Linked DNA regions of Homo sapiens: region 2 is linked to region 1. The links come from fine-mapping of genetic effects on gene expression. A gene starts in region 1. The other region holds a variant in brackets. All regions are shown on one strand. Distances are from middle to middle. Region 1 holds the start of VPS33B (VPS33B late endosome and lysosome associated). Region 2 overlaps PRC1 (protein regulator of cytokinesis 1).

Region 1 (2,912 bases):
TCTATCTGCTGGATGTTACAAGCTATATTTCTTACGGGCATCTTAACTTCCCCCATCCAAACCCAAACAAATCAACTTCCCCCATCAAACCTGTTCCTTTTTCTAATTATTTTTCTCATTTCTATTCAATGTTAATACAACAAATATTTATTAAGCACATGGTGTGTGCTTGACTCTAAGCTAGGTACTCACTAGGTAGTGTTGAACAAAACAAACATGATCCCTGCCCACCTTCCAGTCTAATGAGGAATACAGACATAAAATGAATAACTAAATGATTACACAAGTAATCCATTAAAATCACAGTGGCAGTATTATTTTCCTAATAACCCAGGTTAAAAATCTCACTCATTTTTGCTTCTCCTTCAACATTTATAACCAATCAGTAAGTCTTTGAGTTTTCTTTCACCATAACTTAAAAATCCATCACTTTCCTTCATTCCCACTGCTACCAATTTTGTGTGGGCCTTTATTTCTTGTCTGATCTACGGTCTCCTAACTGGCCTTCTTGTTGCCCATTTACGCCACCACACACATCACTATTAGAATCATCAAGTATTGTCTCATGCCACAAATGGAAAAAAAATTTTTTTCAGTGGCTACTGTGTAACTGCTGATGGGTGTCTTCCCTTACATGCCTTGTCTTTCCCTGGTTTGCCAACTTTGCTCCTACCAATCTATCTGCCTGGAGCATGCTTAGTCTCCAAAGAAAATATGCTTATTACTCACACTCACTTCCTTGAAGCTCCTAGATCATCACCCCAACTAGAAATGATCACTTACTGTGAACTCTTCGGGTACACTAGCTCTATCACTCATTTACCACCTGTGTGTGATAATTTGTGCTTCATACAGCTCCTACTGGAGTGGTAAGATCCCTAATGGCAAAGATGTCTTAACCATCTTTCCGTCCCTAGGGATGCCTGGCACTAATGGTGTCTCCCTTGCCTGTATGCGGGGTTGGGGGGTGATTTCCATTAACTCTCTGGCCAGGTTCCAAACAGCTCTTACTACTCCCTGGATTCATTCTGGACCTGCTGGGGAAGCGCCAAGGACAATACCAGGGGCCAAGAACAAGATCAAAGGGGCACGGCAAGGAAGAAATGTGCATCCAATGAGTGCTAAACTGTAGATGCGATAAAGGCGTCAGGCAAGCACTGACCTGCTCCAGCAGATAGATGAGCTGGTCTCGAGCCAGCCTCTTCAGCATGGAGAAGTCAGGCAGCTCAGGGGCGTCCGGCCGATGGGGAAAAGCCATGGCAGCGGTCACCTGCGCCGCGGGGTGGAAGGACGCCCTTCGTTCTGAGAAGGCCGGCCGCAGCCCAGGGAAGCGCAAGGGGGGCTATCCTTCAGGCCTGGGCACCGACTTCCAGAGACCCCAGATGGGCCCTCGCTCCTCAGCAGCACTCCAGGAATGAATGGCCACCTCCAGGCAAGAGAGCTACTACCTCGGAGCAGCCTTGTCTCAGACCTGCAGCCACCGTGTCTCGACCCTCCCTCCCTGATCCACTCTGCCCGTCAGCAGGATTCCGGTCTACACCCCGCAGAGACTCCGCAGCGTACGAGGAGAACCCCGCCTTCTACCAGAAAAAGAAGCGACTTCCTAGATCTCCCGGAAGTCCCTTTCGCTCCCAGCGCTTCGCGTACCAGGAAGGGGACGGCGTCCTGAAAGGGACATTTGAAAAACGGAGGCAACGCGTCTATTAATTAGGTGGCGGCGCCTGGGGTCGCAGCACTCCAGAGGCTGAGGTGGGAGAATCGCTCGAGTCAGGGAGGCGGAGGTTGCAGTGAACTGCGATCGCGCTACTGCACCCCAGCCTGGGCAACAAAGCTAGACCTTGCCTCAAAAAAAAAAAAAAAAAAAAAAAAAAAGACATAATGAATGCATCAGGCTAGCTAACAATACCTCAACTCTGATCAATCATACCATCATATCATTTCCTGGTGAGATGCATAGGAAATACAGAGCATCACCTATTGCCAAAAATTGAACCTAATCAAGCCTCAAGATCTAACTACCAGTTTATAGGCTATATAGAGATTAGCAGGAATATGTTAAGACACCAAAGGTATGAAATCAACCATATCCAAAATGTAGGAAATTATATGGGACAAATGATCTGTCGTCTTCAAAAAAATGGCAAAGTGGGAAATGTGGGAGGGGAAAACACTTCAGAATAAAAGAGATTTAAGAGATGTATCAACAAAATGTTTCAATGTGTGGATCTTTTTTGGATAATAATTCAAAGATAACTGATTTAAGGAATTACTAAAACTTTTCGGGTATTGTATTTCTTTTCTTCTCTTTTTTTTCCTGACAGAGTCTCGCCCTTTTGCCTAGTGGAGGAGCTCGGCTCACTGCAAGCTCCGCGCCACAACCCCCCTGCCGCCCCAGGTTCAAGAGATTCTCCTGCCTCAGTCTCCCGAGTAGACTGGGATTACAGGCGAGTGCCACCATGCCCGGCTAATTTTTGTATTTTTGGTAGAGACGGGGTTTCATTATGTTGGCCAGGCTGATCTCGAACTCCTGACCTCAAGTGATCCGCCTGCCTTGGCCTCCCAAAGTGCTGGGATTACAGGCGTGAGCCACAACGTTGGGCCAGGTATTGTATTTCTATGTTATTATTATTTTTTGTATTTCTATGTCATACAGGCTTGTATTTCTGTTAAAAACAAGTCCTTATCTCTTTGAGATACATACTGAAGTTTTTACAGGTGAAATAATTTGGCCAGGAGTAATGGTTCATGTCTCTAATTCCCACCACTTTGGGAGGTCCAGGTCGGGGTCGGGGGGTTGCTTGAGGCCAGGAGTTTGAGATAAGATTGGTCAACTACAACACATAAAAAATAGCCAGGCATGGTGGTGGGCACCTTTAATCTCGATACTTGGGAGGCTGAGGCAGGAGGATCAC
Region 2 (2,874 bases), 36 kb before region 1:
GTGGCCTCGAGAAAAAAACAAATTGAAAACAAGCATTCAGCTTAATTCACCTTTAACCACTCCCCATCCCTTTTCCTACCAAATGCCACTAGCAATACAAGATTTCATATCATATTACATCATGGAAGCTCAACCTTCTGGACTTTCAACAATGATCTACCTATGGAAGTATAATACAGAATTATAAATACTTTTACTAAAGAAAAACCGGACAAAAGATGTTGGTAAAATAAACTAACACAAGAACTTGCTGGTGAGAAACTCCTGCAAAATGTTTGGCAATTTATTACTATTTTTTTGGTGTTTTTTTTTTGTTTTTTCTTTTTTTTTGAGACAGCATCTTGCTCTGTCGCCCAGGCTGGAGTGCAGTGGTGCAATTTTGGCTCACTGCAACCTCTACCTTTTGCGTTCAAATGATTCTCCTGACTCAGCCTCCCGAGTAGGTGGGACTATAGGCAGGTGCTACCACACCCAGCTAATTTTTGTATTTTTAGTAGAGTTGGGGTTTCGCCATGTTAGCCAGGTGGGTCTTGAATTCCCGGCCTCAAGTGATCCGCCCTCCTCGGCCTCCCAAAGTGCTAGGATTACATATGTGAGCCACTGTGCCTTGCCATTTTATTTAATTAATTTATTTATTTTTATTTTCTTTTTTTTTTTTGAGACAGAGTCTCGCTCCGTTGCCCTGGCTGGAGTGCAGTGGTGAGATCTCAGCTCACTGCAACCTCCGCCTCCCAGGTTCAAGTGATTCTCCTGCTTCAGCCTCCCAAGTAGCTCAGATTACAGGTGTGTGCCACCACACCCAGCTAATTTTTGTATTTTTACAAAAACACAAAAATCCACCCACCTCGGCCTCCCAAAGTGCTGGGATTACAGGCATGAGCCACTGCGCCCGGGCCTAGTATTCTTAAATTGCAACCGGCAGCTCAAAGAATGGCTAAAGTTAAAAAGCCATTGAGATGGGGTTTCACTACGTTGGCCACGCTGGTCTCGAACTCCTGACCTCAAGTGATCCACCTGCCTCGGCCTCCCAAATTGCTGGGATTACAGGCGTGAGCTACCATGCCTGGCCTATTCTTCTTAAATTACAACTAGCAGCTCAAAGAATGGCTAAAGTTAAAAAGACAGCATTAAGTGTTGGTGAGTATATAGAAAAGTGAGAACTTTCATATGCTGCTGGCATGGTGTAAATTGGTACAACTATTTTAAAAACTGTTGGCAGTCTATCTACTAAAGCTGAACCCAGCAGTTCTACCTCTACATACATACCTAGCAGAAATGAACACATACGTTCACCAAAGACATA[T/C]ATGAGAATGGTTAGAGAAGCACTACTCATAATAGCAGGGAAACAGAAACAGCCTAGATGTCTATCAACAGAATGAATAGTACATTCCTACAATGCACTAATGCAGCAATGAAAATGAACAAACTGGCTGGGTGCAGTGGCTCACACCTGTAATTCCAGGACTCTGGGAGGCCGAGGGGAGCAGATCACTTGAGGTCAGGAGACCAGCCTGGCCAACATGGGGAAACCCTGTCTCTACTAAAAACACAAAAAATTAGCTGGGTGTGGTGGTGCGCCTGTAATCCCAGCTACTGGGGCGGCTGAGGCAGGAGAATCGCTTGAACCCGGGAGGCAGGGTTTGCAGTGAGCCAAGGTTGCAGTGAGCCAAGATTGTACCACTGTACTCCAGCTTGGGCGACAGAGCGAAACTGTCAAAAAAGAAAATGAACACACTACACATGATATGGATAAAGCTCAAATTATTATATTTCTATTTTATTTATTTATTTATTTTACTTTTTTGGGGTGATGAAATAGTTCTAGATCTTGATGGCGATTATACAACAGTATACAATTGAAACTACCTGTAAAGCGAGTCTGTTTTACTGTGTATGAATTATACCTCAAATCTTTTCATTTTTTTAATGAAGTAAAATAAACAACTAAAAAATAGTTGTAAGGGGAAGAGGAAGGAAAAAAAAAACACTTTAGGCTGAGCAAATGCCACTAGATATGCAAATGTGTATCACTATGTGATTCCGTTGACAGAGAGTTCAAAAACAGGCAAAACTGGCCAGGCACGGTAGTTCACGCCTGTATTCCTAGCACCTTGCAAGGCCGAGGCAGGAAAACTGTTTGAGCCCAGGAGTTTCAGATCATTCTGGGCAACATAGTGAGACTCTGCGTCTTAAAAAAAAAAAAAAAAAAAAAATTAGCCGGGCACGGTGACGTATGCCTATAGTCCCAGCTACTCAGGAGGCTGAGGTGGGAGGATTGCTTGAGCCTGAGAGGATGAGGCTGCAGTGAGCTATGATCACTGCACTCCAAAGCAACACCCTATCTCAAAAACGAAAACAAAAAAAGCAAAAACAAAACCAGGCCAAACTAATCAATGCTTTCAGAAGTCAGGATAGTAGTTCTTTTGGCTCAGGGGAGGCAGTGACTGGTAGAGGGCTTCTGGGTTGCTGCTTACACAGGTGCATCAACTGTGAACAATTCACTGAGTTTACACTTGATTTCTGTACGTTTCTGAATGTATGTTATTCTTCAATTACCAAAAGCTTATTTTAACAAAAAATTATTTATCTAAAATACAAATTTAACTGGCTTCTGTATCTTATCTTTTAAGAACAGCTTACTTTAAAAATTATCACAATTAGTCTGCTTTACAGAACATTTAAAGAATAGAAATTTTTCTCCCTTTTCTTAGGTATAACAGGACAACTAAGACTGCCCTGGCACCAGAGAAACTACAATCTAGATGTGCTCTGCTTCCAGTCGGCCGAGAAGCCTGCAGCAAATCACCTAAACACTTAAGGTCTTTGTGTGCCATCCACACCCAACTGCAACTAGAGACTTTCATTAGCCCCTTT

What was found. PIP is the estimated chance that this variant, and not a neighbour inherited with it, causes the effect. A credible set is the group of variants that fine-mapping cannot tell apart.
Region 2: its variant is the best candidate, but not a certain one, in a credible set for the expression of VPS33B in whole blood (TOPMed, PIP 0.60).

What each region holds. Positions count from the first base shown.
Region 1 is chr15:91,020,992-91,023,903 of GRCh38, forward strand. VPS33B (VPS33B late endosome and lysosome associated) reads right to left here and starts at 1,603. Exons shown (of 23, transcript NM_018668.5): 1 at 1,163-1,603. The coding sequence starts at 1,258. It overlaps VPS33B-DT (VPS33B divergent transcript), which reads left to right and starts at 1,631. Exons shown (of 4, transcript NR_110104.1): 1 at 1,631-1,749; 2 at 2,322-2,912. RefSeq lists enhancers at 687-1,303, 1,158-1,567.
Region 2 is chr15:90,984,919-90,987,792 of GRCh38, forward strand. The region is part of intron 1 of PRC1 (protein regulator of cytokinesis 1); the gene reads right to left. It overlaps PRC1-AS1 (PRC1 antisense RNA 1), which reads left to right. Exons shown (of 4, transcript NR_051984.1): 4 at 2,712-2,874. Among named protein-coding and RNA genes, the nearest start is that of PRC1, 8.2 kb to the right of the region's middle. The variant T/C (reference allele first, on the strand shown) is at 1,304.